3 linked regions of the Homo sapiens genome follow. The protein of the gene in region 1 interacts with the protein of each later gene in a pairwise test. Each region holds a gene or a part of one and is shown in the gene's direction. Other genes may lie near its edges.

What was found.
Region 2: the proteins of DEFB121 (region 1) and CLEC2D interact in binary tests that used the Homo sapiens proteins (3 or more experiments, as listed by UniProt).
Region 3: the proteins of DEFB121 (region 1) and CD40 interact in binary tests that used the Homo sapiens proteins (3 or more experiments, as listed by UniProt).

What each region holds. Positions count from the first base shown.
Region 1 is NC_000020.11:31,403,986-31,411,156, reverse strand, and holds DEFB121 (beta-defensin 121 isoform 1 precursor), read left to right. Parts: upstream 1-4,941; 5' UTR 4,942-5,004; coding exon 5,005-5,062; intron 5,063-6,071; coding exon 6,072-6,244; 3' UTR 6,245-6,312; downstream 6,313-7,171. UniProt on the Homo sapiens protein: Has antibacterial activity.
Region 2 is NC_000012.12:9,664,913-9,673,148, forward strand, and holds the start of CLEC2D (C-type lectin domain family 2 member D), read left to right. Parts: upstream 1-4,800; 5' UTR 4,801-4,822; coding exon 4,823-4,883; intron 4,884-8,236. UniProt on the Homo sapiens protein: Receptor for KLRB1 that protects target cells against natural killer cell-mediated lysis. Inhibits osteoclast formation. Inhibits bone resorption. Modulates the release of interferon-gamma. Binds high molecular weight sulfated glycosaminoglycans.
Region 3 is NC_000020.11:46,113,845-46,121,573, forward strand, and holds the start of CD40 (tumor necrosis factor receptor superfamily member 5 isoform 1 precursor), read left to right. Parts: upstream 1-4,469; 5' UTR 4,470-4,499; coding exon 4,500-4,550; intron 4,551-7,729.

The sequences.
Region 1 (7,171 bases):
ATAGGAAAAGGGTCTTTTATGAGAGTCTTCTCTACTGCTGAAAACTACTATTAATTCCGATAAATCATGCACATAATGGATTCAGGTCATCCCTTTATTAGGCAGCCTTATTCTGCTTATCAGTGTTCACAAGAGCAAACTTGCAGGGCTATGATGGAGTTCTTTAAAGAAGGGAAGTAGATCTCAAAACCATTCAGTGTAGATGAAACTCTGTGCCACTGGGGGTTCCTTGGATGCATAAAGAAAGTACCTTCTAGACTAAGACTTCTGCAAGGATGGTGCTCCCATGAGTTGCTCTCTTTCTCTCTCTCTCTCTCTCTCTCTCTCTCTCTCATTTTTCAAGGCTCTCAGCCCAGTATCCTACCCTTCTAACCAGAAACAATCCCCTTTCTCAAGAGTGGAGGAAGTTGTGCCGTTTGCTTGAATGGCATCTCAGGTTTCCTCTCTGCAGTCCCTTCTGGAAGGAGAGGAAATGGGTTCCAGTCCACGGGGCTGATACCTTACTAATGATCTTTAGAAGTAAGCCCCTTGTCAATATAGCACTTTATTTTAGTCCTCTGTTGCAGAGGGTTATGTATTTATGGCAGATTTATTGTCATTGGCCTTATACAAAGCCCTTCTCTTATTTTATTTTACTGATTTATTAACTTTTATCCCCATAATCAACTCCTATCCATCTCTCACATAGGCAACTCCTATGATGTTTAACTCCTATGATGTATCTTGTCACCCAGGTAGTGAGCATAGTATATAATAGGTAGTTTTTCAGCCCTTGCCTCCCTCCCTCTCTCCTGACTCTAGTAGTCCCCAGTGTCTATGGTTCCCCTCTTTATGTTCACATGTACCCAAGGTTTGTCTCCAACTTGTAAGTGAGGACATGTGGTATTTGGTTTTCTGTTTCTGCATCAGTTGGCTTAGGATAATGACCTCCAGCTGCATCCATGTTGCTGCAAAGGATGTGATTTCCTTCTTTTTGATGGCTGCATAGTATTCCATGGTATATGTGTACCACATTAAATGTGTATATATTTTAAGTGGTTTTATGTTATTTATCGGATTCTGTTGCTTATTTTAAAAACTATTTGCACAGGTTTTTTTTAAAGTCAACTTTTTTGAGGTATAATTTATATAAAACATAATGTGTAAATTTTGATGAATTTTGACATCTGCATATAGAACATTTTCATCACTCTGAAAGTTCCCTCATGCCCCATCTCAGTCAATGCCCACTTCCTCCCATCAGCCCCAGGCAACCACTGATCTGTTTTTTGTCACTGTAGATTAGGTTTGTGTTTTCTAGAGTTTCATGTGAATAAGCTTGTTCAGTATGTTCTTCTTTGGTCTGGATTTTTCCACTCAGGCTAATGCTTTTAAAAAATGTTTATTATTATTTTTATTATTATTCTTTTGAGACAGTGTTTCGCTCTTGTTGTCCAGGCTGGAGTGCAGTGGCATGATCTTGGCTCAGGTTCACTGCAACCTCCGCCTCCCGGGTTCAAGCAATTCTCCTGCCTCAGCCTACCAAGTAGCTGGGATTACAGGCACCCGCCACCATGTCTGGCTAATTTTGTTATTTTTGGTAGAGACAGGGTTTCACCATGTTGGCCAGGCTAGTCTCGAACTCCTGACCTCAGATGATCCACCCACCTTGGCCTCTCAAAGTGCTGGGATTACAGGCGTGAACCACCACACCCAGCTTGCTCTTTAGGTTCATCCGTATGTTGCATAGCAGTGGTTAATTCTTTGTTGCTGAATAGTATTCTATTACATGGAGATATCAGAATTTATCTGTTTACTAATTAATGGACTTTTGGGTTGTTTTCACTTATGGTGAATAAAGTTACTATGACAATTCAAGTTTTGACGTGGACATATGTCTTCATTTATCTTTGATAAATACCAAAGAGAGGAGTTGTTTGGTTGTATGATAAGTTTATGTTTAACTTTATAAGAAACTGTTAAACTGTTTTTCCAAAGTGGAGATACCAAGAAAATCAGCAATAATTTTGTTTATTTTATTTTTTTAACAAGTTTTTTTAAAATAGAGAAGGGACCTTGCTATGTCATCCAGGCTGGTCTCAAACTCCTGGCCTCAAGTGATCTGTTTGCCTTGGTACATTTTTTTTTTTTGAGATGTAGTTTCACTCCTGTTGTTCAGGCTGGAGTGCAATGGCACCATCTCGGCTCACTGCAACCTCTGCCTCCCAGGTTCAAACAATTCTCCTGCCTCAACCTCCCGAGTAGCTGGGGTTACAGTTGCTCACCACCCCACATGGCTAATTTTTGTATTTTTAGTAGAGACGAGGTTTCACCATGTTGGCCAGGCTGGTCTCGAATTCCTGGCTTCAGGTGATTCACCTGTCTCAGTCTCCCAAAGTGCTGGAATTACAGGCGTGAGCCACCATGCCCAGCCAGTACATTTTTAAATCGTTGAAAACAATCAAATTTCATTTAGAGATGTGAAAATTATACAAAATTTAAACTTGAGTGTCTATAAATAAGTTTTATTGGAATACAGCCACACTCATTTGCTTATATATTGTCTGTGGGTAATTTTGTCCTATAGCTGTAGAGTTGAGTAGTTGTGATAGTTGTGGCTGGCAAATCCTAAAGTATTTACCATCTGGGCTTTATAGAAAAAGTGACCTCCGGAGCATTAATTTTTCTTCAGACAACAAGAAAATTTATCTTGTCTTTTTTTTGTTTTTGGAGACAGGGTCTCTGTTGAGCTGGCTGGAGTGCAGTGGTGCAATTTTAGCTCATTGTAGCTTCGACCTCCTGGGCTCAAATGATTTTCCTGCCTCAGCCTCCCTAGTAGGTAGGACTACAGCTTTGCCCCACCATGCCCGGCTATTTAAAACTTTTTTTGTGTGTGTGTAGAGATGGAGTCTCGTTATGTTGCTGAGGCTGGTTTCAAACTCTTGGCTTCAAGCAATCCTCCTGCCTTAGCCTCCCGAATTGTGGGGATTACAGGCAGGAGCCTCTGCTCCTGGCTTGTTGTTTTCTTCCATGTTAGAAAGAAGATATTCCTCTTATTAGTATGTCTTTATTTCTGTCCATTTTGAAATGATAGACCTAGGCCAGGTGCAGTGGCTCACGCCTGTAATCCCAGCACTTTGGGAGGCTGAGGCGGGTGGATCACCTGAGGTCAGGAGTTTGAGACAAGCCATGGCCAACATGGTGAAACCTCGTCTCTACCAAAAATACAAAAATTAGCTGGGTGTGGTGGCGCGTGCCTGTAGTCCTAGCTACTCGGGGGGCTAAGGCAGGAGAACTGCTTGAACCCGGGGGGCAGAGGTTGCAATGAGCTGAGATGGTGCCACGGCACTCCAGCCTGGGCAACAGAGCAAGACTCTGTCTTAAAGAAAAAAGAAAAAGAAAAGAAAGATAGACCTTACCATTATTGTCCTAAAAAGCACTTGGCTCTTTCCTGATCTATCTGCTGGCCTTGTGTATAAGTTAGCCATTACTATGTAATGTTCCACTCCAAAACTCAGTGGCTTAAAACATCAATCCTTTATATTTGGCTAGATTGCCCTGCTTGAGGCTGGAATGCCTGGGGCAGCTCTGTTTCTCACTGTAGATCTGTGAGTCGCCTGGAGTAGCTGTGCCCCACGTATCTCTCATCCTCCTTGGACCACTGGGGCATGTTCTTCTCATAGTGATGGCAGAGACACAGAAGGGCAAATGAAAATATTCATCATCTCTTAAAACCTAGGCTTACAACCGGCACACCGTCACTTCTGCCCACATATCACTAGCCAAAGCAAATCACATGCCAAGGCCAAAGTGAAGGGAAAATGAAATAGAGTTCTCCTAGGATGAGACCTTGGCAAATGTGTGAATTCAAGTAGGGATGAAGAAGTAGGGCCAAGATTACAATCTACCATTTCTTTCTTTCTTTTTTGAGACAGAGTCTCGCTCTGTTGCCCAGGCTGGAGTGCAGTGGCACAATCTCGGCTCACTGCAACCTCCGCCTCCCGGATTCAAGCTAGTCTCCTGCTTCAGCCTCCTGAATAGCTGGGACTACAGTGGCCAGCCACCACGCCCGGCTAATTTTTTGTATTTTTTTTTGTAGAGACGGGGTTTCACTGAGTTAGCCAGGATGGTCTCGATCTCCTGAACTTGTGATCCGCCTGCCTCGGCCTCCCAAGTTGCTGGGGCAATCTACCATTTCTTATAAGAAAGACCAAGCTGGGCATGATGGCTCATGCCTTTAATCCTAGCACTTTGGGAGGCCAAAGCAGGAGAATTGCTTGAGACCAGGAATTCGAGGTTCCAGTGAGCTATGATTGTGCCACTGCACTCCAGCCTGGGTGACAGAACAAGACTGTCTCAAAAAAATAAGTAATAATAAAAAAAAGACCACAACAATAATAAATGGCTTTTCTTTTGCTACCTATGAGGGTGCTACTTGTTCCTATTAAATATGTACTGTTAAAAGTAAGGGCTATGGCTTTCCTGCTCATTCCACTCCATGAATACTGACATTCTGGTTTCCAGTGGTGATGGCCATGGAGCTATTAAGGTATTTTCCCCTGCTCTGCCCTTCATTTGGTATTATAATGAATCATCAACATATGGGACATCCTAAGATGTCCTTGTTGCTGGGAAGAACCCAAGGCGCAGAGAAGTATCACTCCTTTTCTGTCTTATCTCTTTTTCTCTCTCTTTTTTTCTCATTAATGAAAAACAAATTAGAGATGAAAATATTTTTCCCCTTCTTGGTTCTCCAGCTGTATTATAAAATTCTTCAGAGGCAAGGCCGTATCTTCTCTTTGTTAACGTCCCTTCCCCCTCTCCCAGCCTCCTCAGGCAGTGTGGTTGATACCTTCCTTGCCTGCCTGTCTGATCTCAAATGACTGTTCCCGTTCTGGTTCACTGATCTTGGCTCTGCCATGCTCCTCAAGGCAATAAATACCAGTCTGGACTGCCCAGAATGGAGTCCTCTGTCTGTTTTACCAGTTGAGAAGCCTCCTATCCCTCCCTGATCATTCATCATTCATGAAGCTCCTTCTTCTGCTTTTGACTGTTACTCTGCTCCTGGCCCAGGTCACCCCAGGTAAACAGGATCTCCAGAAGGGGATGGGAGTCAGGAAACCTGATGCATGTTCAGAGAACTCTGGGGACTCTGACAGGTTGGGCTGGGAGAATGGCCTGGTAGAGCTCATTGAGGCCTTTAGGTAGTCTCTCTAGTTATGGGGAAGTTTGAGTTCTCTGGTACCAAATGGTCTTCCCAGTGCCCAGTACTTGACCATTCCAACCTTATCTCTGGTTAGCTCTGGAAAAGCTGAACGTGATGACCTGAGGATGGGATAGGGTGTAAAGAGAGAGACTTGGGTATGGAGTATAGAGAAAATGGGGACTTTTTCAAAAACATTCATTGAAAGGATTTGAATTTTGATGCATTGTTGCCTCTAGGAAAATGGTTCTCAAATTTCTGATTGTTTGAGGATTCTGATTCCACTTTTTAATGCAACCTCAAATCATCTGGGTTACCTTAGGTTGTAGGTTCCCTGGAATAGCTGTTCCTAATTCCCTTGACTGGTTGGGGCCAGAGAAAAGTCCCAGGATGTTGTGAAGAAGGCAGTATGATATTCTTGGGAGTTTTAAAGGTGCCCTAGAAGACTTACAGATGTTAAATGAGTTTATTTAATATTCCTGTCACCTTTCATTGATATGGTCAGAGGGGGTACCAAAGAACAATGAGAAAAGGTGGCTAATTGCTACTGGGCACCTGGGTACATTATAATATGGGGGAGATAAAACCCTTGGGAGAGGGGTCCTCTTCCCCCTCCCAAGGAGCTGGCCAAGGAGGGGAAGCTATCCAGTAGGTCCTATGCCACTGAGTTGGGGGGACTCTGGGGGTTCTAACAGGGGGCACAAGTGAAGGAAGAAAGCGTAGTGGTCTATAATCTCCCTTAAACTTAGGGGATCCTGTGTAAGAGCTTCTTCCCCACAGACCTCCTCATTTCCCTCCTACTCCTCTACTGGGCTTTAGCCTCTTCCTTTCACACCTTTCTGCTTTCTTTCAAAACTGACTCTATTCTCTTCTTCCCTTTTGTTTTCAGTCATGAAATGTTGGGGCAAGTCAGGCAGGTGCAGAACAACATGTAAAGAAAGTGAAGTATACTATATATTATGCAAAACTGAGGCTAAGTGCTGTGTGGATCCCAAGTATGTACCTGTAAAACCAAAATTAACAGACACAAATACAAGCCTGGAATCAACTTCTGCAGTCTGACACCTCTCTTCCAACCTTGAGTCTCAACATCATGGGATCCTGCAGTTCTATTAAATCATTCTTGGCAACACCCTGTTTCTGTCTGATAGTTCCACCTAGTTACATTTAGAAACAAGTAAATAAAGAAGAAAGGTTGTGTGCGTGTGTGTGTGTGTGTGTGTGTGTGTGTCCGGTGTGCATGTTAGGAAGAACAGGATGGACCAGTAGGTGGTAACAATCTAAACCTTGCAAATAGCTCCTAGCCTGCTGACCCATAGCTGGTCCAAGAGGGCATGAATTAAAGAATATTCATTATATCTACTTGATTCCTGTTTTCTTCTAGACCAGCACTGCCAATAGAACATTCTGCCATGATGGAAATATTTCCTGTCTATGTTGTTCAATATGGTAGCTACTAGCCACATGTGGCTACTGAGCACTTGAAATGTGCCCAGTGTGAATGCGGACCCGAAGTTTTAATTTGATTCAATCGAGCTTTAAATTTATATAGCTAAATGTGGCTAGTGGTGATTGTATTGTATAGCAATGGCTTTAGAGTCTAGGCTGAGGCATGCTGTGGGTCTCAATCTATGAGTATTTTAGGGGAGTCCAGGAGGCAAGTATGATGAACACAAGAACCCATTCTTGGCCCATGGCCTCTTTCTACTCCCACACCAAAGGTTATAACTTTCCCTTGATCACACCTGCAGTTCTGCCCCTCAGGGGCTCTAGGGCAATGCCTCTTGTGAGTCTTCCTCATGGTGGACAGTGCTGGCATCAGGCCATCTGTGGATCCTTGCTCCATCTCTTTCCATTCCCTCTAGTTGTGGCCATGGGACATTAAACTGCTGGCTAATCATTTTGCAGGACAGATCCTGAACTGAGACGACAGGAATTTTACCACATTCAGCCCCATGATCCCAAGTATCCCCAACTCTTGCTACTTAT
Region 2 (8,236 bases), on another chromosome or scaffold:
TGTGAGGTCATTAAGTCATGAGGGTAGAATACCGATGAATGGGATTAGTGCCCTTACAAAAGGGGCCCACCAAAGCTGCCTTGTTCCTTCTACTATGTGAGGACACATCTAGAAGTTACCATCAATGAACCAGAAAGTGGGCCCTTACCAGGCACCAAATCTGCCAGCACTCTGATCTTGGACTTCCAGCCTCCTGAACTGTGAGAAATAAATTTCTGTTGTTTATAAGTTACCCATTTTATGGTATTTTGTTACAGGCACATGAACTAAGACAAGTGGATTAAAAACAACACAAATTATTATTTTACTGTCTAGAAATGAGAGGTTCAAAATGGCTAAAGTCAGGGTGCCACTGATAGGGCTGCATTTCTTTTGGAGGCTCTAGGGAAGAAGCCGTTTCCTTGCCTTTTTCAGCTTCCAGAGGCCACCTGCATTCCTTAGCTTATGGTCCCTTGCTACAGCTTTAAAGCCAGCAGCACAGCACCTTCAAATCTCTCTCTGACAGTGACATTCCTGCCTTCCCCTAATAAAGACCCATGTGATTAGATTAGGCCCACCTGGATTATCCAAAATAATCCCTCTGTCTTTAGACCCTTAACCATATGTGCAAAATGTCTTTTGTCATGTAAAATAACATCCTTACCTCAAGGTTTTGGGAATTAGCTTATTAATGTCTTTAGGGGGTCATTATTCTGCTTTCCACATACATTTAAAATTAACTATCAGGCTACAAAAGTCATATATGAATTGAGCTTGTTTTGCCCCAAAGGCTGTGTTCTTTTTTTATTTTTTTTATTTTTATTTTTTGAGATGGACTCTCACTGTTGCCCAGGCAGGAGTGCAGTGGCACAATCTCGGCTCACTGCAACCTCCGCCTCCTGGGTTCAAGTGATTCTCCAGCCTCAGCCTCCCAAGTAGTTGGGATTACAGGTGCGCACCACCACGCCCAGCTAGTTTTTGTATTTTTAGTAGAGACAAGGTTTTGCCATGTTGGCCAGGCTGGTCTCCAACTCCGGACCTGAGGTGATCCACCTGCCTCGGCCTCCCAAAGTGCTGGGATTATAGGTGTGAGCCACCACACCCTGCCAGCTGTGTTCTTTTACATCATAATACACTGCCTTTTATATCCCTCACTTATTCAATATCATTACCATCCATCATGCTGTCACAAACACAAAAACCCAAGAAAAGTGGGATACAGGTCATTGAGAATAAATAATTTTTATAAACTTTTGTTCTTTCTTGTAACTTTTTATCAGTCAGCTATTCCAATGAAGCAAAATCTGATAATATATTGCTTTTATACTACTTAGTTGAGACACTCACATCTATTGAAGAGTAATGGGCACTTTGAAGGGGCTTTTTTCTTTCCTTTTATATCCGGTCAATTAGTCATTAATTTCTGCCTTCTAATATAGACTCAACTAAAAAATTATATTTTGAAAAAAATTTATTTTCTAAATGAAATTAAAATTACTCTGTATGTGTACTTCTTTTCCTCACACTGGAATTCTCTAAGGACAGTGTAAATGCACATCACTGTATCTTATGTGTGGTATCTTATGTGTGGTATCAGCTATTTAACACAAGGTTGCATAAGAAAGTAAGCACGACGATATGGCTTAGAAGTCATGAGATTCACATAGTTTAATATAAAGCTCTTGTGATAATTGGAGAGTTATTTTGTCACATTTCTCCTTTCATAATTTATGCTCCAGCTCTCTCAGATTTCAGGTGTTTTCCCAACTCTGAGATATATTCTCTTCTCTCTGGGCCTAACTAAAGAAACTAGAAGACTTTCTTCAACTGGAAGACTTCTTCCTCCACCTCAAATGCCTCACTTTATTTTTTTTAATTAATTAATTTATTTATTTATTTATTGTTTTGAGACGGAGTCTCGCTGTTTCGCCCAGGCTGGACTGCAATGGCACTATCTCGGCTCACTGCAAGCTCTGCCTCCTGGGTTCATGCCATTCTCCTGCCTCAGCCTCCCGAATAGCTGGGACCACAGGCGCCTGCCACCGTGCCCGGCTAATTTTTTGTATTTTTAGTAGAGACAGGGTTTCACTGTGTTAGCCAGGATGTATGTATTTATTTATTTTGAGACAGAGTCTCATTCTGTCGCCCACGTGGTGCAACCTTGGCTCACTGCAACCTCTGCCTCTAGGATTCAAGCAATTCTCCTGCCTCAGCCTCCCAAGTAGCTAGGACTACAGGTGCAAGCCACCATGCCCAGCTAATTTTTGTATTTTTAGTAGAGATAGGATTTCACCATGTTGGTCAGGCTGATCTTGAACTCCTGACCTCAGGTGATCCACCCGCCTTGGCCTCCCAAAGTGCTGGGATTGCAGGTATAAGCCACCATGCCTGGCCTAAATGCCTCACTTTATTTAACTAACTCCAGCTCATTTGATTGGTACTTTCTTGGGAAAACTTCTTCTGGGTTAAGTGCCCTCATTAACTGCTCTCCTAATAAATTATTCTACTGCCATTCACATCTTGTTACAATAAGTCATGTATACCTACTTATTTTTCAGTTTCATATTAACTTCCTTAAAGAAAGGGACATTACCCTCAAAGTCCACCTGGCGTGCTGGCTGAAAGATGTTAAGTTTGAAAATATTTGTTAAAGGGTAAATGATTATGTACATCTTTAGGACTTCATGAACTTACTTTCAGTTTAGTTTCCACATAAGGAGAAACTTACAGCAACGTAGAAACCAAGAGATTGATATGAATAAATGATGTGACTAACTCACAAATACCATGTCATTTGATATTTGACCTTTAAAGTAGTTTTCATATCAGATCTGTCAGTCATGGGTTCTATAGCTTACTGTGAACTTAGACATATTAGTTAGTCCCTCACCCAAAATCATCTGAAAAATAAAGGTAATATCAGCCTCATTAGTTAGTTATGCCAATTAAATAAGAACACATATTTAAATCTCATATTAATGTGTATGGAGCATAGTAAGCAGTAATAACCTGGCATGTTGTCATGCCAGGCTAGTAACAGTAAAAGTAATAGTAGTTTCACTGGAAGGTCCAAGATTAGTGTGGAAATTCCAAGATGATTAGTGTGGAAATTCCAAGATAAGTGTGGAAATCTCAATTTATCAGGGTTTACCTTTTGTCCCCTTTAAGCTAACAATGAAATTATAAAAGGATATAAAAGGGATAAGCCTGACAGTTCATATCCACTTCTGTGTATGATAATATAACTGGAGAGACATCAAACTCATGCTGAGAACAACTAGAAGAGTTAGAATTGAAGAAAAAGGATTTCATTAAGATATTAGAGAGTGTTCAAGGCAACTGGAGGCAGAACGAAGATTCTGGAAAGGGGCCACAGAGAAGTGAGTCAGCATTCCAGGAGCCACCCTTCTCTTAGGGGCATCTTGGCAGTGGGTCAGATGCTGAGATTCTGGGGAGAGGGCTGTGGATACCAGGCATTTTTTTGGGGGAGAGAAAAATCTCTTCCTAAAGCACTTGAAGGACCAAAACCCCCAGAGAGGAGAGAGGGCCAAAGAAATGAGAAAAATTTTTCTCTCAAGCAATTTTCAAATTATTAAATTTCACAGGAAAGGAGGTTAGGAAGAACTATGTGAAAAACAGACTTGAACTTTTGGCAATCACATGTTGTTCAGGAGACAAAACCAAATTCAACTTCCAAGAAAGAGAAGCAGCTTTGATAAAAAGCAGGTTCTCAGATGGAATTACTAGAAGGCTTTATCATAGGTCCTAGGACAAACTAGAAATGATGAAATAGTAAAGAAAAAGATATATAAAATCTTACAGAAACTGGAACTCAGTCCTAATGCAACTTCATTTCTATTTGATAAAGGCAATAGCTGTCCAATCTGGAACTTATTTCTTACAGGTAAGGGGGGCTACTGTATAGAATTCAAAAGCAGGGAAAATATGTTGTCAGAGTTAAGATAGAGATTGTATTTGGGGTAATGAGCGTTGCAGGACATGAGTAGGGCACATAGCGTGTTGGTATTGTTTTACGTGGTTTTAAGATATACTTCATCTAGGCACTTGTTACATGTTATATTTTTAATGAATGTGTTTAGTTGTATGCTTATGATTTGTGCACATTACTATAAATTATATTTTAGTAAAAGGTGCCCTTACTGGCATTTATATACAAGAAATCAACACATCTGACAAGAAGCTCTTGCTGCTAAAGAGCCTCTGTGCTCCTGGATCATGCCAGAGGGAGCACAGAAGCTGCACACCGTTCAAGCCCATTTTTGAAAAGTTGTTGTAGCAGCCATAGCAGCAAATTCCCAAAATATCTTGAAGAAATTGAAAACAAGATATTTTTTGAATGAGCGTAAACTCTTGGGAATGAATTTTAATTTGAGATTAAAATTGCTGTTGTCTTTACTTACCTAACATTCATTTCCTCTGAGAGCCAACTCCTTCCTTTCAATAAATTCTTATTTTCTATCATAATATTGCTTTGTACCGCACAAAATACAATTATAATTTTTAATAGTCAAAGAAATTTTAAGTTATCAAACATTAGTTTCTTTCGTAACCAAAATACTGTTAGAGAAGTAGCTTCAACTTTTTAAAATTCTTACAAACACCAGTTTATTCTGTTGTGATGAGCTGATTTTTGAAACAATTTATGCTTCATTTGTTCCTCTAGCTATATTTAACTTAAAGGCTTGACATTTTGAGTTACTGGGGCGGTTACACACTTACACGTTTTAGTCGTTGGGCTTTTTTTTTGTTTTGTTTTGAATCATTCTTGGGGTTGAAAACGTAGAGACTGTGGTTTAGATCACTCATAGAAACTGGAGGCAAAATGCATGACAGTAACAATGTGGAGAAAGACATTACACCATCTGAATTGCCTGCAAACCCAGGTAAGAAGCTGGGCTCTACAGAGTAAGTGTGAGGACTGGAATGGGAAGGTAGTGGTAGTGATGGGCTCACACAGGAAAGGTGCTGATCTAGTAAAAAGTTTTCAAGGATAAGAGATGGAATGTGGGAGTCCATAAATTGGCTTATAATTTGTGTAAAACATGCATATATTTATATTCCCAGTTCTAACAACTAAGGAGAGGGAACAATGAGAGAAAGATGTAAGACAATGAGATAAGGTTAAGTTTAGGATTGAAAATAACAGTTAATTTCACTAAAAAAAAATCTATACAAACTCTAAAGTGTTACTCAGATACAAGATACCATCATTATTACATAGGTAGAAAACCTATCATGGAAGCTCTTAAGAGAGAAAAGGTAGAAAATAGTATGTAAAGGACATTTACAAATCAAAAAAGTAACAAAGGTTGAGTAGAAACTTAGTAGGGCATTCTAATGGAATTATGTTACATTGGATGCACTGGAAATATATATATATATAGCTTTATATGATGCTTTAGTAAGTGAAAAAAATGACTTTTGCCACAGTTAGGGAATATCAAGGTTTTATAACTTAGGACTTAAAAGTTTGGAGTTTTCTCCTCCCAACTTAAAAGGTAATCAATTTGGAGAAAAGGTAATTCAGAGGCAGAAAAAGATGAACTCTAAATGTTGTTAAATGACTTCATTTATTTCTTCATTCATTGGGTATTTTGAGCATTTTATACCAAATGCTTTAAACTGTTTGTCGGATAGTTCCAACATCTCTGTCATGTCCTCCTTGGCTTGTGTTTTCTTTCCCCATGGAAGTTGACATTTTCGTGGTTCTTCATATACTGTGTAATTTTGGATTGTAATTTGAACATTTTGAACAAATATTTAGTTAGACTGGATCTTATTTAAATTTTGGAGTATATTGATACTATTGTTTTAGCAAGCAATCACCCTGGTGAGATGAAGACAATCTGTGGGATCTGGTTCCAATGTCAGTTCCATTCTGAAAGCCTTTGTAGTGCTATTCAGACATGTGCATCAACCAGGGGTGAAATTGGGAACTGTGCAATGCTCTACTCATTAGTTCAGGTCTTAGCATCTTTAGTGTGCCAATTAGAACCATATCTAGGCATGCATAAGTTGAGGGGCAGGTGAATCCAGGAGTTTATGAATAATGTTCATGGGTCTCTTTCTAAAGTTTCTTCCTCTTCACCATCTGACCCGTACTTTCAGGTTCCCAGGGGCTTCTCCTTTCCATCCTCCAGCTAGAAATGCGGGCCTCCTTTTATTCTGATGAACCATATACTTCTGCAATTATAGCTGCATCTTTAAGCTCATGTGGCAGACGGACAGTGAGAAAGAAGAAAAAAAAAGCAAGAGGTTTGGCCCCACTCTCATGGAGCTACAGCTCAACTGAATGGAAAGGATTGACTTTAGATTTCTTTTCTTTTTTTGAGGTGGAGTCTCACTCTGTCCCCCAGGCTGGAGTGCAGTGGCGCGATCTCGGCTCACTGCAAGCCCCGCCTCCTGGGTTCACGCCATTCTGCCTCAGCCTCCTGAGTAGCTGGGACTACAGGCGCCCGCCACCACGCCCGGCTACTTTTTTGTATTTTTAGTAGAGACGGGGTTTCACCGTGTTAGCCAGGATGGTCTCGATCTCCTGACTTTGTGATCCGCCCGCCTCGGCCTCCCAAACTGCTGGGATTACAGGCGTGAGCCACCGCGCCCGGCCGAGGATTAACCTTTCTCAAGGTTTTGGCTATTGCATGTTGCTGTAGTTTCCCCTACCATCATCAGATTGCCTGAGGTTTGAGGCACATGAGAATGTAGACAAGAGGGGGAGAAAAAATAAACGTGGTATTTTCACACTCTATTTGAGATAGGAGTTTGCTTTTCTGTTCCTCAGACCATACCTCTAGTGCTTCTCCTGGAGCCCTCTCTTTATGCTGACAGAGGCTCAATTCCATGTTTCTGGCTGTATTAAGTTCGGGGCAGTGATACTAGAGGAGGGAAATTTAAATTCACCACTGGTTTGATGGCTCTTTAAATTTGGATATTCTTGTAAGATCTGCTGCTAGTATATCCTTTTTCCTTTTGCTCTTTTTTGTTTTGTTTAAAGACCATATTTTTAGAGCCATTTTGGGATCACAGCAAAATTGTGAGAAAGGTAGTTTTTTTTTTCATTTTCTCCTTGTTGCCACACATATATAGACTCTGTCTTAGTCTGTTTTGTGCTGCTATTACAGAATACCCAAGACTGGGTAATTTATAATGAACAAAATCTATTGGCTCATAGTTCTGGAGGCTGGAAAGTTCAAGACTGAGAAACACATCTTGCTCCATCATCCCATGGCAAAATTTGGAAGGGCAAGAGAGCACATGCATAAGAAAGAGAGAGAGCAAGAGGCACCAAACTTGCTTTTATAACAAATCCACTTTCGTGATAGTAAACCCACTCCCATTATAAGGACATTATGACCTGATTACCTCTTAAAGGACCTGCCTCTCAACACTATTGCATTGGGGATTAAGTATCTAACACATGAACTTTGGAGACACATTCAAACCATAGCAGTCTCTAACATCAACATTCTTCACCAGCAGTACATTTATTACAATTAATAACCTACATTGGCATATTGTAGCACTCAAAATTCATAATCTGATGGACTTCCCTTTGTCAGTGACCTGACCTTTCTCCCTGGCTGCCCTTAATATTTTTTCTTCCATTTCGACCTTGGAGTATGTGTCTTGGGGTTGATCTACTCATGAAGTATCTTATTGGGGTTCTCTGGATTTCCTGAATTTGAATATTGGCCTGTCTTGCTAGGTTGGGGAAGTTCTCCTGGATTATATCCTGAAGTGTGTTTTCCAACTTGGTTCCATCCTCCCTGTCTCTTTCAGGTACTCCAGTCAGTGGTAGGTTCGGTCTTTTTACATAGTCCCATAGTTCTTGGAAGTTTTGTTCATTTCTTTTCATTCTTTTTTCTCTAATCTTGTCTGTCTGCCTTATTTCAGCAAGAGAGTCTTCAAGCTCTGATATTTTCTCTTCTGCTTGGTCAATTCAGCTATTGATACTTGTGTTTGCAACATGATGTTCTCGTGCTGTGTTTTTCAGCTCCATCAGGTCATTTATGTTCCTCTCTGAACTGGTTATTCTGGTTAACAGCTCCTGTAATCTTTTATCATGCTTCTTAGCTTCTTTGCATTGGGTTAGAACATAATGCTTTAGCTCAGCGAAATTCGTTATTACCAACTTTCTGAAGCCTACTTCTGTCAGTTTATCCATCTCAGCTTCAGCCTTGTTCTGTGCCCTCACAGGAGAACTGTTGCGATCATTTGGAGGAGAAGAGGCACTCTG
Region 3 (7,729 bases), about 15 Mb from region 1:
GGTGGGGTGGGGTAGGCGAGGTCAAGCCTGGGCTGGATGACCCTGTGAGAGAATTGTGCAGTGGAGAAGCCGCTAAGGAACTTACTCATTTGCCCATGAGAAACCATATATGGACACGGGGTTGGGGTGGGGGTGGTAGGGTATGTCTCCCAATCAGACCATCCGCCCCACCTCCACCAAGTCCTTTTCCTCCTAGCAGGCAGGGTCCTGGCTCAAGTTAACTCTTGAATGAGTAAGAGAGAAGATAAAATGAGATTTAAATTGAGTTTGAGAATAAAGGTCTAAAGGATGGAGGTTTAACAACAGAAAGTGATCCAAAAGTAATGCAATCTGCCCAAAATGTCATTAAGGGATGGAAAAGGGAGATTCAACACAGCATGGCTGAAGGCAGAGATTAGGGGAGAAAATCTTCATCATTATACCCCACAGAGTTGAATCGCCTCAATACACTGGCTCCACAAGTAAACAGAAAAATTGAAATACAGTGTGGTCGGGCTAGAGTCTTGCTTGGGTAAAGCTGCCCCAGGTTCTGAGAGAGCACAGGGGGATAGGTTGGTTGTTAGAGAGAGATTTCCAGAGGAGGGTTGCCTGAGATGGACCTTGAAGGGTGAGAAAGAGTTGGCCAGGTGAAAGGAGAGTGGCAGTGGGAAGGGAGCTCTCCAGGCAGAGGTGACAGCACGGGACATCTGGGGAGTGGGGCTGGAGCATGAAGGGGAAGGCAGGAAGGATGCTTAGAGATGTACACCAGGAGGCCCATGGCCTTGCAGCTCTGCAAGCTTAAGGGGTGAGGGCCCTGGAGAGCCACTTTAAACCTTGGAGCAACACAATTGGATTTGCATATTAGACAGAACACTCTGGATGCCAGATTCTGGCAGCGCTGTGGACACTGGACCTCTAGGCATGCTCCTCACCCATTCACCTGGCACTGTGAACCCACCTCCCTACAAAGGCCATTTCATCTCTGAGTTTCCAAAATCCTGGCTCCCTACTCTTTTGAATGTCCTTTGCCCCATTCCTATTGCAGAACCCTTCATTGTTCCCTTTTTGATTGGCCTCCGAATATTGCCACTTTCCCTTAAATCATCTTCTCGCTTTCCTCCTCCAGCACACTCTTCTCAGCTCAACAAGATTCTAGGCCTTCTCTGGGCCTGTGCCCACCAGCACATGCCTCCTCAGGATATGTATATACTAAAATATCTTCCCTTTATCTTATCTGGTCTTCGCCCCATGGGGCAACCCGAAGGCTAACATTTATTCCTTCACACATTAATTTAAGCTGCTTTAATTGCTGCTATGATATGTTTTATATAATATAATTAATGTTTTAATTCTGTGTACTTGCTTCCCCAGGCAGTTTTGTGAAAGGCCCAATTTTGGAATCAAGCAAATAAAGAATAAGTAATGGCTGAAATCATTATAGTAACACCCCTCTCTCAAAGGATTTAAAACCGTGCTTGTTTTTTTCAAAGTATGTTAAAAAGGGAAAAGATATTTTAATCTTCTCTCCATCCTGGGCATGTTTGGGTGGCTTTAATGAAGTTCCCTGGACCCTGATTTCAAGAGTTTCTGGCCTTTTGGTATCTGACCACCATTCTCAAGAGGCCACTGCAGCTTGAGGTCTGTGTTGAGATTACCAGCTTCGCACCCCCTGCCACCAACTCTTTGTCATGATTGGAGGCTGTACTTAGGATGAGAAGTTGCTGAACCCACTCATTCATTTATTCATTCATTCAGCACCCATATATTGGTGTCCTATTATGTACCTAGGACTGGGATAGATCCAGTCCTGCCCTCAGGGAGCTCACAGTCAAATGGGACCAGGCAGAAGGAGTTATGAGCTGGCATGCTAAATGCTGTGGCAACACAGGGGAGGAGGCAGGGTGGGATAGAGTACCTACCTCTGCCTCAGGGAGTTGGGGAAGGTGTAAGAGGAGGCAACATTTAAACTGTTTAAGAAAGGAGAAGGAAAGGAAGGAAACATCAAGAGCAATGAGATAAACCGTAAGGAAAAAAGATTGTGTGCCTGGGAAGTGGGGAGAGGCTGAAGCCAGTGTGCATGGGAGGACGTGGCAGGAAGTAAGCATAGAAAGAGAGGTTGGGGCTGAGTGAGGAAGGGTGTGCTTTGCCAGGATAAGAAATTTGGATCATCCTGAGGGTGCAGGGAAACCCAAAGAGGCTTTTATGCAGGAAAGTGTCCCAGTCGATCAGATCTGGAGTTTATCAAGAGAATCGCAGCAGTGTAAAGAGTTGCCTGGCACATAGTAGGTGCTCAATAAATCCTGTGGAATGAGAGAGGCTGTTGGGACAGTCCAGATGAAAGATGGCACCCTCTGAATTAGGGCAGTGGCAGAGGTGACAGAAAATAAGGGATGGATCCTAGAGGCAGAATCCACAAGACTTGCAAATGTGCCCTTAACAGCAGAAGCCATGAGAATGGGGTTAGAAGTGTCCTCCTCTTCCATCCTCCCTGATCTGTGAGGTCTGGCCTCTTGTCCTCTTCCAGAAATTGAGAGCTTGGAGGGTCATCACCTCAACCGTTGTCTAGTTCAAGCTCCTAAGTTTTCCTTGGAGAAAAATTTAGGCCTAAGGGAACACAGTCCTTCAGAGGCAGAGGCTGCACCAGAACCCAGGTGTTCCATGCTGCAAAGCAGAGTGTTAACACTGGTTCAAGAACATCTTGAGGGCCAGGTGCGGTGGCTCATGCCTGTAATCTCAGCACTTTGGGAGGCCAAGGCAGGCGGATCACCTGAGGTCAGGAGTTTGAGACCAGCCTGGCCAACGTGGAGAAACCCCGTCTCTACTAAAAATACAAAAATTAGCTGGGCGTGGTGGCGCCAGCCTGTAATCCCAGCTACTCGGGAGGCTGAGGCAGGAGAATTGCTTGAACCCAGGAGGCAGAGGTTGCAGTGAGCCGAGATCATGCCACTGCACTCCAGCCTGGGCAACAGAATGAGACTCTGTCAAAAAAAACCCAAAAACCAAAAACCAAACAAACACCCAAAAAACAAAACGAAACAAAAAACAAAAAAACAAAAGCACGTCTTCAGAGTTCATGAACCCAGGAAATGTAGGCACAAGTGTGTGTGTTTCTGCAAAATGAGAGGGTCCCGAGTTTCCTAACATACTTAAAGTGTTTTATGATGCCACAAAAGGCTGGCCCACTCTTTTTTTTTTTTTGAGATGGAGTTTTGCACTGTCGCCCAGGCTGAAGTGCAGTGATGTAATCATTGCAATCATGGCTCACTGCAACCTTGACTTCTTGAGCTCAAGCGATCCTCCTGCCTCAGCCTCCTGAGTAGCTGGGACTACAGGTGTTTGCCACCATGCCTGGCTAACTTAAAAATTTCTTTATTTTGTAGAGATGGGGGTCTTGCCATGTTGCCAGGCTGGTCTTGAACTCCTGGCCTCAAGCAATCTCCCTTTTTGGCCTTCCAAAGTGTTAGATTACAGGCGTAAGCCACCGCGCCTGGCCCCCACCTTTATTTTTATTTTTATTTATTATTTATTTTTTTTTTTTTTGAGACTGAGTCTTGCTCTGCCTTCGAGGCTGGAGTGCAGTGGCACGATCTCGGCTCATTGCAATCTCTGCCTCTGCGGTTCAAGCGATTCTCCTGCCTCAGCCTCCCGAGTAGCTGGGATTACAGGCGAACGCCACTACATCCGGTTAATTTTTGTATTTTTAGTAGAGACGGAGTTTCACTATGTTGGCCAGGTTGGTCTCGAACTCCTGACCTCAAGTGATCTGCCCGCCTCGGCCTCCTAAAGTGCTGGATTACAGGCGTGAGCCACCGCGCCCGGCCCCACTCTTAATAAATGCCTGTCTCCAGGTGCTGGGTGGGAGGTGGGATGGAATGGAATGAGGTGAGGACGCATGGATGCATGGATGAATGGATGGGAAGTTGAGACGACGCGCCCACACGAGGGAATTTCCTTTGAAAGAGAGCGAAATTCTGAGTTGGGAAACTCTTCCTTGAAACGCCTCCCCATACCCCAGCTGTGGCCTTCCCGTTTTCTGCGTGGTGGTGTGGGGGGAACTTCCTCAGGCCTCTCCGCAGTGGAGCCTCTTTCGGTTCTGCCAGGATACCTAGAGGCAGCGGAGAGCGGGGCAGGGAGGGGAAAACCGTGAGGGTCCCTGTGGCAGGCCCCAGCACCCATGGGATCTCTCTCCGGTCGCAGGAAGCAGGCTAGCTCCTAGCCCGCCTCGGCTTGGCCTTTGTGGGACCTGGGGGCAAAGAAGAAGAGCTGTCTCTGGGACCATGCCTCCTCCCGTACACAGCAAGATGCGTCCCTAAACTCCCGGGGGAATTAGACTTGTGGGAATGTTCTGGGGAAACTCCTGCGCGGTGAATTGCTGGGGGCTCCGCCCCCCCGATAGGTGGACCGCGATTGGTCTTTGAAGACCCCGCCCCTTTCCTGGGCGGGGCCAAGGCTGGGGCAGGGGAGTCAGCAGAGGCCTCGCTCGGGCGCCCAGTGGTCCTGCCGCCTGGTCTCACCTCGCTATGGTTCGTCTGCCTCTGCAGTGCGTCCTCTGGGGCTGCTTGCTGACCGCTGTGAGTTGTTTTTGCCCCGACCAGACGGGAGTTGGGAGTGGGGAATGAGAAGGAAAGGGAAGGAAGACTTCGGGGAAGAGGCCTTCCTGGCTGATTTTTGTGGGGGCAGGAGGGTGGGTGGGAGCTGGGCAAGGTGCCCCCGCTCCTGGCTGAATGGGGTGGGCTGCCTCTCTCTTCTCCCGGGCTGGGGTCCCGGGAGCGGCCTACAGGGGCCGCTCAGGGAAGGCACTGGCTGCCCAAGCGTGCCTAGACGGCCTGGACGGGTTTAGGGAGCCTCAGAGGCTGGCCACACAGAGACTGGTAGGGGGTTCAGAGGGCGGGAAGTGAGGCGGACCAAGGGAAGGGGCGGGTCTGGCCCGTTTCCTGTCCCCTTCTTATTGTGGACAGATGCCAGCCTCTGTAAGTAGTTATCATCTCCTTGCCAGCTGGGGCTGCCTTCTTCCAGGGCATCTTGTGGGAACAAGAGATGGGTGCAGAGGCCCAGGTACTTTTGTGAGAAGGCAAGGAGCTTTTAACATCGCCTTCCACCCCGAACCGTATCTTGGGTGTTCCAACCTAGGAGGAATCCCCAGGGCTTTGCCTTTTTCTCCTGAATTTAAGATGACATAGGAGACCCCTGGGGAGATGAACAGTTTATGGGACACAATAAAGGGTTAGGAGACCAGAGTTCTGGTTGGCTCTGACAGGGCTGGTGATCAGAGGGCTGGAGAAACCAGGGGTTTCTCCAGGCACCAGAGGGGCTCAGAGCCAACCAAGCATATCTCCGGGATTTTCAGAAGCCTACACTTGACTCACTTTTTGTTTAAATGTATTTTTGTAGTTCCTCATTCTGGAGGCTGGGAATCCCCCAAGTACCTGGCTCCTTCATCCCAGCCCCTCTGGCCTCCCCCTACTTTAGAGGGCTGTAGATTCCTGCCTGAAGCCTGGGCAGGAATGACCCATGGTATCAAGGAAAGCAAGGGAAGCAGCAAGGGAAGAGAGGGAGTGGGGAGGCTGCTTTGGTCCCACAGCTTTCACTTTCACCTGAAGCAATGGCTCTTAGGGAACAGGGAGGCAGGGGGAGGGCGGAGCTGGAAAGAGGTAAAGGGGGGCCCTTGTGGTAGGAGTGGAGAAAGAGCCAGAGGAGGTGGGGTGAAGGGTGTGATCCAGGCTTCTCAAGAGCAGAGTTTGCCCTCATAACTCCCAACTTTGGCTCCAGGTAGAGGCTGGGCTGTGACAACAATGTCAGAAGCTATCTATTGAGGGCTTCTTGTGTGTCAGGCTCTGAGCCAAACACTGCCTGTTTTCTTTGTCTGATTTCTCACAACTCCCCCATTATACAGATGGGCAAATTGAGGCTCAGAAAGGGGGATTGTCTTGCCAAAGGTCTCATAGCTAGCTAATGGAAGAACCTGGTTGTGAATCTACATCTGCATGATTCCCGAGCCTGCCTCTCAGATAGTGAGAGTCTCCAAGCTCTGGTCCTGAGCTGTTTTGTGGCAGAAGGACCAGAACTATGGGGAGTGAGAACTGGAGATTGACAGACTTTTAGGGGAGCGTTTTATTTCTCATGTGTTTGAAGATGGTATCAAGGACTTTCCTATCTTTGGGAGTGTGGGAGCTCCACGTTCACAGGATGGTGTCTTGCAATGAGCTGGTGGGGGGCAGTAGCCTTTTCTACTTCCTTTCCCATTTTGGGTAAGACACATTTCTGTAAGTAATTTGCTGAGATACCCAGGTTGAATGAGAGCCACCAGTTAGGTAGGATTCTGGACAGCCAGCCAGGTAGCCGGGCTGCTTGCCATATATCATGCAAGCAGAAACAAATGAATGATGATTAAAATTGCCATTTAATGAGCACCTACTATGTTCCTGACACTGTGCTAGGCCATATACATGTATTCTTTCTTATCTTCGTAATCCAACCTGCAGGGCAGGCATTATTACTCCCATTTTAGAGATAGAGAAACTGAGGCTAAGAGAAGCAAAATAACTAGTAAGTGTTACAAAGTCAGGACTGGAGTCTAAAGCTGTCTGACTCTCAAACTTGTGTTCTTTTCACTGGCTGTTCCCAAACTGTGGGACAGTTTTAAGGAGCACATGGACATAGAATTAAACATACACTTACTTTACAGTTCTTTTAAAAATCCTTCTCATTTTTTCAAAGAGGAAGTCTCTGGAGCTAGAATAGAGTTAATGCCTCTCAAAGGCTTGCTAATCCTTCTTTTAAAACAAAAATCAAGAGCAGGCCTGGGAGGGCCTTCAACAAGCAAACAACCAGCTGGGTTTTAATAACCTTGTTTTGTTTCCCCAGAATTTATTTTTAGGGTTACCTTTTATTTATGAGAAGTGATACTGGTTCTTGTCTCTTGGCAATGATGTGAGGTTTACATTTAAAGTAAATGTACCGGCCAGGCACGGTGGCTTGTGCCTGTAATCCCAGCACTTTGGGAGGCCAAGGCAGTCAGATCACTTGAGGTCAGGAGTTTTAGATCAGCCTGGCCAACATGGTGAAACCCTGTCTCTACTAAAAATACATAAATTAGCCGGGCATAGTGGTACACACCTGTAATCCCAGCTACTCAGGAGGCTGAGGCTGGAGAATTGCTTGAACCCAGGAGATAGAGGTTGCAGTGGGCTGAGATGATGCCACTGCACTCCAGCCTGGGCGATGGAGCGAGACTCTGTCTCAAAAAATAAAATAAAAGTATTGAAATTAACAATAAGTAATTAATAGCATGGGTGGTACCTGGATGTAGTAAAATGGTGAAGATGAAACACAAGTTGATGGAGAGAGGAGCATTGAGACCTGAGTTCTCATTTGGACTCTGTCACTGTGAGACTCTGGGCAAGTGACCCTCCTCTTTGGTGCTCAGTCTCAACTATCTGTAAAATGAAAGTGTGAGTTTACCCTTCCAGCTTTACATTCTAGCATTTTATGAGGGAAGGGCTGGATGAACAGATGATGAGGAGTTGGAGGAAGAAAACATGATGGGCTTTGGAAAGGAGCAGGAAGGGAAGCAGAAGAATAGGAGGAAGAGGCCAAGTGCTAAACATAGCCCCAAACAGCACTGGGACCAGCTGAAGTCAGCCAGCTTCAGGACTCCAGGGGAGCTGCTGGAGTCCCCATATCCTATGGGATCTTTGGGAAGAGGAATGACTCAGGCATCAAGCCCCAAGGAATTCTGTTCTGTTCAGAG